Homo sapiens: one gene and its partner. The protein of the gene in region 1 interacts with the protein of each later gene in a pairwise test. Each region holds a gene or a part of one and is shown in the gene's direction. Other genes may lie near its edges. The genes, in order: HOMER2 and PALLD.

Region 1 (3,538 bases):
AATGCCGCTAGAGACCCATGATGTAACCACTTATTTTCTTTTTTAAAAAAATTTAAAATGTATTTATTTTATTTAAGATGGAGTCTCATTATGTTGCCCAGGCTGGTCTTGAACTGGGCTGAAGCATTCCGCCCACCTCAGCCTCCTGTGTAGCTGGGACTATAGACACACGCCATGAGAGCACCACACACACGTGCCCACCACACCGCAGCCCAGCTCCCGGCGCCAGCCACCTGCACTCACTGCCACCATGCCTGGCCTACAGTCATTTATTTTCTAGGGGGCAGACAGTTAAGTGCACACATGTTGGAGGCCGTGCTCATGTTACCAAACTCCCTAGGCCTCACTTTCTCCACTTATAAAACAGAAATCGGAAAAACATCTGCCTTGTGGTGGTGTGTACAGACTTCACGTGACAAGGCGTGTGACACACTTCACCCTTGAAATTCCCTGAGATGAAGTATTCGCATGGTCACTATCACTGTCTATGCAAACAGGACAGGGTCCCAAAGCTGCTTCCACGAGCGTGCACACATTGGTGATTTTCAAGAATATATTTTATCTGACTTGCTTTCATGTTCTATCTCAAATTTTTTTCATGTAGGAGCTGAAAGATCTCCGAAAACAAAGTGAAATCATACCTCAGCTCATGTCAGAGTGCGAATATGTCTCTGAGAAGCTAGAGGTACGTGGGTTGGGGGCACAGCCATCCTGGCTCAGACAAGAAGGCACAAATGTCATGGTACTCATTTTCCTGCTTCCTATCACTTTCACACTGAGAATGCTGAAGGAGAGATTTTCTATTCACAAAAAGCTGGCAGTGACTGCACGCCAGATGGCACCGCATCCACCCCTGCCCCCGGGGCAGACTCAGCAACGTTTGTCTTTTGGTTTTGCAAGTTCTATGAAGGCCCCTGTGCATCACCACAGTGTAGACGACTGTTTCCTTGCAGATCCCTGGTGGGGGTGAGGAGCGGGGGGGCGGCCTGAGAGCCCAGGGTCAGGGTGTGGGGCCACTTCAGCCACTCCCCTGCCAGTGGCCTTGGGCACTGACCTTGGGCAGGCCTTCCTCCCTATCCTCAGATTTCTGATCACTAAAATGAGGATTTTCAGGGCTTCCTCCACCTCGGAGCGCCTCTTCCCTGCAGGTCCTCTGATATGCACACGGCGCTTCATGTAGTTACATGACCCTGGAATTGGTAACTGCTTCCTGTGCACATGTTCAGAAAGGTCTCTGTTTATTCCCTCAACATAAAGCTCTTATTTGATATGAAGAGTTAAAGGCTTATGGCTCATTTAAGGACTCACAGCTGTCCTGTCTTTGGGAACCTGCTTGTGATTTACCTAGATGTGCCTCTGTAGGCTTGTGGGGCCCAGCGCCACAGAACATCTCCATGGTAACAGCATCAGAGGGTGCACAGACTGGCTGTCCCTGAGTCATTGGCATGGCCAGTCCTTCCTCTCTGAGGGCCAGAGGCTGGCCTGGGGCTGAGGAGGCCACGCCTCTCTGTGGGACCAGGGGAACGAGCCACTCTCCCATCTGTTCTGTCTCTCAGGATGGAACTGAAATGTGGTCTCTGCTAGCCACTCAGACAGGGATTTCAGACTTTCCCTGCTGGGCCCTGTGTGAGGTCTCCCTCAGGCAGGACTCTGCGTTCTGCCTGCTTTGTTGGGTCTTGGGTTTTCAGGCTGGGTGTTGGTCCCTCTGTGGGAGAGCAGGCAGGAAAGGAGGAGGTCACTGAAGTGCCTGCTGCTTCCCTTCTGATGTCTTGGTCACAGGCTTGTGTGCTGGGGTAGCATGTCTCTAGGCAGCTTAAGCCCTGGCCCAGGCCCTCAGATTGGATGGAGAATGGTTGGTTCAGCTGTAGCAGGTTTTGAAGGATGACTCTCGTCACTCAGTTTTCTAGACCCTTCTCCCTTTTGCTTGGCCAGGCGGCAGAGAGAGACAATCAAAACCTGGAAGACAAAGTGCGTTCCTTAAAGACAGACATTGAGGAGAGCAAATACCGACAGCGCCACCTGAAGGTGGAGTTGAAGAGCTTCCTGGAGGTGCTGGACGGGAAGATTGACGACCTGCATGACTTCCGCCGAGGGCTCTCCAAGCTGGGCACCGATAACTAGGGCTGGCCGAGGCCCAGGCCCCGCCCGTGAGTCCCAAGCGTGTGTGCGAGACCAGATAGCTCTAGGACGTTCTTCTGTGTGCATTGCTTCTGTAAATGCAGGCGCAGTTTGTCGTGTTTCCAAACCAGTTGTGCCGTCCACTCACTCCTTTTCAGAATAGAAATCTCCTCTCGCTTCTCTGGCCTTGTGAGGTTGTGGACAACTGGAAGATTCTGACTCAGGAATCCAGAACTAGGTCTACCTTCAACATTTATGCAGTCAGGGCAGGGATGTTTATATCTTTCATAAGGGCTGTTGCAACCATATGAACTGAAAAAACACGCATTTTGTAATCCAAATATTGATATTCTTTACACCAAGCCATCAGGCTCCTTTTATCAAATAGCATTCAGAGTATTTGAATGTCCACCAGACACCAGCCCCGGGGGGCACAGAGAGAACAACATTCCTCTCTGTCAACATCGAGAGGCTTTAAAACAACTGTTTAGTGGAAACTTTCTGAGAGATGGAAAACAAGCTTCTGGTGGGTGCATTTTCTGGCCCGGAGTTGCCTGCATCCACGCTACTGCCCCCTGCCCCCCGCCCCCCCAGTTTGTACGGTTGCAACAGTGTTCCTTTTCTTGGTTTTAATTTCTGAGCAGATGATTGTGCTGTGGGAACAGCACACAGTGAGGGTGCCTAGCACAATGTCTGGCACAAAGTAGGTGCTTAATAAATATTTGTTCAATTAAATGTGTACACAGAATTTAGTGTTTTAATCAAACCCCACAGCAGAGCTGGGACCCTGTCGAATGATGCACCATCTTTGCTGTGCTGGGTAGTTAACAGACATGAATACCACTGTCTGGTCAAACCCAAGCTGGGGCTCGGGTGGCCCTGGGGCAGGGAGGGAGAAGGGGAAGCAGCAGGAGCTGGTCTCAGGCCCCTGGAGCCCATCCGTGATGCTCTGCCCCTGGGGCTCTCCAGACCCTCGAATCACCTTCTCCCCTAGGAATGGTGACCCAGGGATTCCAGGTATAGGGGCTGCCCAGGGCTTGGTACCTAGGGTAGGATTGTCTTATGGGTCTGGACAGCTGGGAAGAAATCACAGGCATTTCGGGGGGAGAGAGCAGCTCAGCTGACAAGCCTTGGCCCTCATGACAGAGGTGTTCCACCCAGCTCTGCGTCCTGCCTTTTTCAGTTTCTCCTAGGGAAGGGACTGCAGCCATAAACCTCTCCTCTCTCACAGAGCTGCTCAGTGGGGCCAGCGGGCCTGTGGGTGCTGTTGGCATCCTGCCCTGGGAGATTGCCCGTGTGTGGCAATAATGGCTTGAATCCCTGGCCCCACACATCTCTAAATGCCTTGAGCAGGGGGGAGGCTTTGGTGCCCCCTCACCCCTTTGAGAACCACCTAAGAGGACTACTCCTTCTAGAAACC
Region 2 (7,300 bases), on another chromosome or scaffold:
GGTTTGTATCTACCCAGAAACAGCGAACTGCAATGAAAGTATCAAAAAGAGAATTTGTTTTCCATGGTATGTACTACTTACACACGCACACAAATCTACTAGAGAAACCATTGGGGAAGTTCTGTTCTTTTCTCCCAGACTACTACTAGATATTAATTCAGCATCTGAAAGAGTAAAGGCTGTTCCAAAATCTTGTTCTGGTTTGTTAGAGCAAGATAACTAAACTGTAGGAAAAAATAATTATTTTACAGCTGCAGAACTGTAGAGTACCTAAATAGATTTGGTAAAATATATAGATAAGATGTTTTCTCCACTGGATTTAAGTCTTTCCTCATCAGTTTTTGTTTGTTTTTTCATCTCTTTTGTTGATGCTATCCTTTTAAAATACTCTTTTCTTTTTAAAATACTATTTCCAGAATATTTTAAGGGGATGGGAAAAGCAAATCTAGAAAATAAGACTTACCAGGTAAAGGAGAGGAACCTTCTGTAGCTTTATTAAGGAATTGTCACTGGAAAAATTTGCCTGGCTCTTAAGTACAAGACAAGGATCTTTTTGTATAAAATCTCCCTTTCAGACACCTTTTTCAGAGTAGAAAGCTCTCTATAATTATGTTTTCTGAGAATTTTAATTATCAAACATTGATAAGTAAAACTGTGAGAACAGACCACACTTGAAAGCTGGAGAGCAGAGGAGGGGTGCTGAATGCTGATTTTAGTTTATTAGGGTATCTTAATCTGATTAAGAAAGATTAAAATTTCAATGAAGTTTTGTGTTAGTTACTCATTTCACTGAGTATAGAAGATTTTCACAAGAGGAAAATATTTTCTCCCTGAAATAAGTGATTGCATGTGTAAATGTACATACTCTGGAAGTTTTCCCTGGCTCTGTCAACTAAATCTTTTAAAAGATTAAAATAAATACATATGGGAACTTTTTCAAGCCAGGTAAGGCATCACTCCAGCTTTTTTTTTTTTCTTTTTGGCTGTCTATGTCAATGTTCCTTATGAACTAAGATTCTCTTGGTTAAGGTAAGACTTCCTTAAGCTATTGGTCAACCCACATTATATATATTGTATGTATATTTATATTCATCTGTTTAGCAGTGAATAACATTCACAGTAAGTTCCACAGGTATCCACACTTGAGAGCTTAAAATGACAAGTAAGGTTTCCCTTTTTAGAAAATGGGATTCTCAACCAACTTTTTCCTAATATTATATATCATTCTCTTTCTTATCTTTGGTGTCTGTAGACACGGGCTTTTATAGCCAGATGGCATAGTGACTTAGAAAAAAAACTGTGAAGTATATTTGGCTTCTAGTGGTAGCAGGTGCATTCTGGTGAAGGAATAGATATGAAATTGATATTTCTGCTTATAAGGAACAGAGTGAAAATCACTCCAGGCCTGCCTTTGATGTGTTACAATTCTCCGTGAAAAGATTAGGGAAGCTTTTTAAGAGATCAGGTATTTAAGACTCTCTTTGAAAATTGAATTCACTGATTTTTTAATAGGTGTGAGAAAATTAATTTAATAACATAGTGGACTCAGATGCTTCATGCCGCCCTCAGACTCCTACCTCTGCCTCTTCTTGTCCTCTGACCTTTCTTTATTAAGTGAAATAATTTGAACTGCAGGACTATTTGTCATTTGGCACTTGACTTGTTTCACTTCCCGGTTTCAGCTGGGATTGAGATCAGCAATTACTGGAAATTGTAAATTTACCCAACATATTTTCCTGATTAGAGAGCTTCCAATCAAATTTGCATTTATATTTAGAAGTTTGGAAGTTTATCTGAAATAATTTCTGTACATTTTTTAGATTCTGCCTTACCAATTATTCTCTATTTCTAATCAAACACTTGCTTATAAAATGCTCCCGATGAGGCAGGTGGTATCTGAAAGTTCCTTCCAAACCTGTAAGTCTAAGGCACTTTAGAATGAGTATTCAAGAGCAGGTATCACCCCAACAGTCACACAAAAATGCCGGCATTTCTTATGTATAAGAATGGCATAGGTAAAACGGTTTGGGCCAATTCCAAAGTGCTAGCTGCGAGATGCAAGAACACTACCACTTTCTTTGCCTGATGGGCAAGCAGTCTGCTTCTGGGTCAAGTCAATTGAGGCTGTTAGCTTTGGCAAGTGTCTTGTGTAATCCTGTTGCTAATTCAGCCATGTGCATCATTCTCTGTGGATTATAATAGTTGCCGCCAATCCCCTACATTACACAGCAGCCTGGGAAATGCTCTTAGAGGTAAGAACCCCATCACTGCCAGCTCATCCACATCTTCCTTTAGCTAAACATTTACTGAGCACATACTGTTAAATGACTGATAGAATTATTTCCATTAGCGATACCTGTTCTTTTTTTAGTCAGTTTATTCTCCTTTTGAGTATCTTTGTTTTTTCTTTCAGTCAGTATTAGAGCTGACTTGGGTGTTCTGAAGCTGATGGATGGCTATAAAAATAACATTTCTTTTAAATTGTATTTTGCTGTTTAAATATCTTTTTTTCCATGTTTTTCATTAAGGACATGACAAATCTTTTCTGTGTGGTTTCTTCCTTGTCGCTTATTGCTCACTTTAAATTTGTGCTGTACCAATTGGTGGCTCTCTGGATTAGGCCATTAGTACTAGAAAGGGAGGTAAAAAGGTAGAACAACTGAAGCAAGAAAAAGAAATATGCAGGTATCTGAAGCTGGAGAGAGAACACTTACAGAAAATCATGAAAGTGTGTTGTTTTTTACTCTTTTTCATAGGGCAGTACATATTTGTGATTTTTTTCTAATTTTGTATTTTTTGTGACTTACGTTGTTTAGAGGTTAACATACGAAGAAAGAATGGCTCGTCGACTGCTAGGTGCTGACAGTGCAACTGTCTTTAATATTCAGGAGCCAGAAGAGGAAACAGCTAATCAGGTACCATGTTGCTCTGGACTTCTTAGGGTAACATTTATTCTGTCCCCCTTTTCCATCTTCCTTATGGATACTGTTCTTGGGATGAGTTCTGTGGAAAGTAGAGGGCAAGTCACAGAAAAGCAGTATTAATATCATCAGTCAACCTCACAGCTAATTTTTATTGAGCACATACTATGTTAAGTGACTGACAGAATTCTTTCCATCAGTGATACCTGTTCTTTTTATTCTTCTTCTTGATTATTCTCCTTTCCAGTACATTTCCATTTTCCTATCCTAAGTTTTATGCAAAATAATTTTGTGTGGAGAAACACATTTTCGCCGACATTGTCTGAAATAACTAGTGAATATTTCCCATTAGAGTTGGACCTTGAACAACACGGGAGTTAGGGGGACCAACCCCAAGCACAGTTAAAAACCCACATATGGCCGGGCACAGTGGCTCATGCCTGTAATTGTAGCACTTTGGGAGGCTGAGGTGGGTGGATCACGAGGTCAGGAGATCGAGACCATCGTGGCCAACATGGTGAAACCCCGTCTCTACTAAAAATACAAAAATTAGCCAGGTGTGGTGACGCACACCTGTAGTCCCAGCTACTCGGGAAGCTGAGGCAGGAGAATTGCTTGAACCCGGGAGGTGGAGGTTGCAGTGAGCTGAGGTTGTACCACTGCACTCCAGCCTGGCAGCAGAGTGAGACTTCGTCTCCAAAACAAAACAAAACTAAAAACACATATACGACTTTTGACTCTTCAAAAACTTAACTAACAGCCTACTGTTGACCAGAAGCCTTACTGATAACAAAGAGTTGATTAACACGTATTCTGTATGTTATATGTATTATAGACTGTAGTCTTAAAGTAAGCTAGAGAAAAGAAAATGTTACAAAGAACATCTTAAGGAATAGAAGATACATTTACAATTCATTAAGTGGAAGTGGGTCATCATAAAGGTCTTCATCCTCATTGTCTTAAATTAGAGTGGTCTGAAGAGAAGAAGACAAGGGGTTGGTCTTGCTTATCTCAGGGGTTGCAGAAGCGGAAGAAAATCCATATATAAGTGGACCCATGCAGTTCAAACCTGTGTTGTTCAAAGATCAACTGTTTAGTCTTAATATCTAGTCAAAATAAAATAGAAAATATTATCTCTTTATCTTCTTTCACATATATACAGATGTTCTTCAACTTAGTATGGGGTTATGTCCTGATAAACTCATTATAAGTTGAAAATATTGTAAGTTGAAAGTGCATTTAAGGCGGGGCGCAGTGGCTTACGCCTGTGATCCCAGCACTTTGGGAGGCCAAGACCGGGTGGATTACCTGAGGTCAGGAGTTCAAGACCAGCCTGACCAACATGGTGAAACCCCGTCTCTACTGAAAATACAAAAATTAGCCGGGTGTGGTGGCGTGCGCCTGTAGTCCCAGCTACGCGGGAGGCTGAGACATGAGAATCGCTTGAACCCAGGAGACAGAGGTTACAGTGAGCCAAGATCGTGCCACTGCACTCCAGCCAGGTGACAGAGCGAGACTCCATCTCAAAAAAAAAAAAAAAAGTGCATTTAATACACCTAACCTACTGAACATCTTAGGTTAGCCTAGTCTATCTTAAATGTGCTCACAACACTTACATTAGCTTACAGTTGGGCAAAATCATCTAACACAAAGCCTATTTAAAATAAAGTATTGAATATCTCATGTGATTTATGGAGTCCTGTACCAAAAGTGAGAAGCAGAATGGTTGTGTGAGTACTCACAGCACCGTTACTACCAAACGCATATTGCTAGCACAAAAGTTTCACTTAAGGAAAATTAGAAATCTTGCTGCATTCTTATTATTTCTATTATTAGTCTTCACATCTTTTTTTCTACCATTACAGGACATTGGTTCTCCTCATGCTTCTGTAGGGAGTCCTCTGGATGGTCAAAAGGTTAAGCTTTTCACCTTTCTTCTCCTTCCAGTCTTTCTCTGTGTCTGTTTTCTTCTGTTCTTCCTGTTTTACGTGTGTTTCTATCTTTTCTGCCATATATTAATTATAAATGCTATGACCAGTGTCTGTTTCATTTAATATCAGATACACAAAATTACTGCAACATGAGTTTTCTTGTCATGTATTTACCAGCTTGAATTTATTTATTTATTTTTACTTTATGTATTTATTTATTTATTTATTTATTTTGAGATGGAGTTTCGCTCTTGTTGCCCAGGCTGGAGTGCAATGGTGTGATCTTGGCTCACTGCAACCTCTGTCTCCTGGGTTCAAGCGATTCTCCTGCCTCAGCCTCCCAAGTAGCTGGGATTACAAGTGCATGCCAACATGCCTGGCTAATTTTGTATTTTTAGCAGAGATGGGGTTTCACCATGTTGGTCAGGCTGGTCTCGAACTTCTGACCTCAGGTGATCCACCCGCCTTGGCTTCCCAAAGCGCTGGGAATACGGCATGAGCCACAGTGCCTGGCCTCTGACTTGAATTTAATTCTGTCATTAGTGGATACTCTGAACATTAAATCAAGAAAAATTTTTCATTTGTTATATATACCTTTCTATGGGGAACAAAAGTGCTAATTCTTCAAGGGATTAATTTGATAGTAATTAGATGAAGCAAAACAACTTGTGGTATAACTCTTGCAGTTTTATTCATACTGTTGTATTTCTTCCCTCAAACCAACAAACTTGTTTTTTAAACACTGAGTAACTTCTTTAAGAGAAAACATAGTTAAAGTTATCTTTCATTTAATATTAAATAGGGAATATTTACATAGACTCCCTTGTCTTCATTGCACTTTTTTGTTTTGGAGACAGGGTCTCACTCTTTTGCCCAGGCTTGAGTGCAGTGGCACAATCACGGCCCACTGCAGCCTCGACTTCCCAGGCTCAAGTGATCCTCCCACCTCAGCCTCCCAAGTAGCTGGGACAACAGGCATGTACCACCATGCCCAGCTACTGTTCTTTTTAAATTTTTTGTAGAGATGGGGTCTCACTTTGTTGCCCAAGCTGGTCTCAAACTCCTGGCCAGAAGCAATCCTCCCACCTCGGCCTTCCAAAGTGTTGGGAATTACAGGCATGAGCCACTGTACCTGGCCTTTAATGCACTTTGTAGGCAAGGAAATTGTAGGATCCACCGTAATCACCACAGGAATGTTGATGGGTTGTTTTTTTTTTTTAAAGCAAAATTTTGGCTAGACTGTCAGTCCTATTTTTTCTTCTAAAGATGGTGGGTTCCTAACAGCTGCAGAGCTGAGGAGGCGGCCCTTGCAAGGCAGGGATTGTTAGAGGTGGGGGAAAAAAAACAAACATTTTTTTTTTTCTATTATTCTTTTACTATTTTTTCTATTACCATTTTTTCTAGTACCATTTTTTCTATTATTCTTTTACTATAATTGTATATAATATGGCAGCTGCTTGCCACATGTACTATGTGGAGAGATGTACCACCCTGCATCAGCTTTTACCCTACAGAAGGAAATCAGCGTTCCATTATATTTTATTGTTATCAACAGTTTAGGAATACATAGCTTTGCTTTTGCCTTTTTCTTTCCTTCCCCTTGTTTCCCCTCGCCTCAGAGAAAAGAAGGAAAAAAAAATTCATCTTTCCTACCCCCCTCTTTTTGGATGATAGGACTTGAAGACAATCTGAAATACCACATAAACTCACTTCCAGATGTTTTTTGTTTCATATGCAATTGAATTGGGCTCAGACTGTGTTTTTAAGCTGTATGGTAAAAATATCACTGTCTTCTAGGGCCTTATTGGGGGGCAGGGAGAGACGTGACACTTTGTCAGAAGGGATTGAGTCTGCTAACTTAAACTTTCCTTGATTCAGGAATACAAAGTCTCCAGCTGTGAACAGAGACTCATCAGTGAAATAGAGTACAGGCTAGAAAGGTCTCCTGTGGATGAATCAGGTGATGAAGTTCAGTATGGAGATGTGCCTGTGGAAAATGGAATGGCACCATTCTTTGAGATGAAGCTGAAACATTACAAGATCTTTGAGGGAATGCCAGTAACTTTCACATGTAGAGTGGCTGGAAATCCAAAGCCAAAGGTGAGCTGGGAGATGGAGGCTTTTTAAGAGTCATTCTCTGAGGAAAGGTTTAGCTTCCAAAACATAGCATGCCAGTAGGAGAAAGAGATACAAATGATCTTTCTCAATACCCACGATATAAAGGGTTTTAAATATTCTTAAGTTCTGGGCCATCTTCAGGAGGCATTAGAAACCAAAAAAGGTGGTGGGGGGAGTGGAGTTTGGGTTTGAAGAATAGAGAATAACTAACAGGGAGCTCTTCACACACCTATATCATTTATTCCTCGTTGTTATTCCCAAATCACAAATAACTAAACTGAGTTCTGTGAAGTGAGTTTCCAAGGTCAGAGAGCTGGTGAGTGGCCAGGC

Evidence for each region.
Region 2: the proteins of HOMER2 (region 1) and PALLD interact in binary tests that used the Homo sapiens proteins (3 or more experiments, as listed by UniProt).

What each region holds. Positions count from the first base shown.
Region 1 is NC_000015.10:82,848,298-82,851,835, reverse strand, and holds the end of HOMER2 (homer protein homolog 2), read left to right. Parts: intron 1-604; coding exon 605-685; intron 686-1,932; coding exon 1,933-2,121; 3' UTR 2,122-2,853; downstream 2,854-3,538. UniProt on the Homo sapiens protein: Postsynaptic density scaffolding protein. Binds and cross-links cytoplasmic regions of GRM1, GRM5, ITPR1, DNM3, RYR1, RYR2, SHANK1 and SHANK3.
Region 2 is NC_000004.12:168,891,763-168,899,062, forward strand, and holds part of PALLD (palladin), read left to right. Parts: intron 1-2,723; exon of another isoform or gene 2,724-2,816; coding exon 2,817-2,915; coding exon of another isoform or gene 2,916-3,003; intron 3,004-3,830; exon of another isoform or gene 3,831-3,990; intron 3,991-4,786; coding exon 4,787-4,837; intron 4,838-6,730; coding exon 6,731-6,952; intron 6,953-7,300. UniProt on the Homo sapiens protein: Cytoskeletal protein required for organization of normal actin cytoskeleton. Roles in establishing cell morphology, motility, cell adhesion and cell-extracellular matrix interactions in a variety of cell types.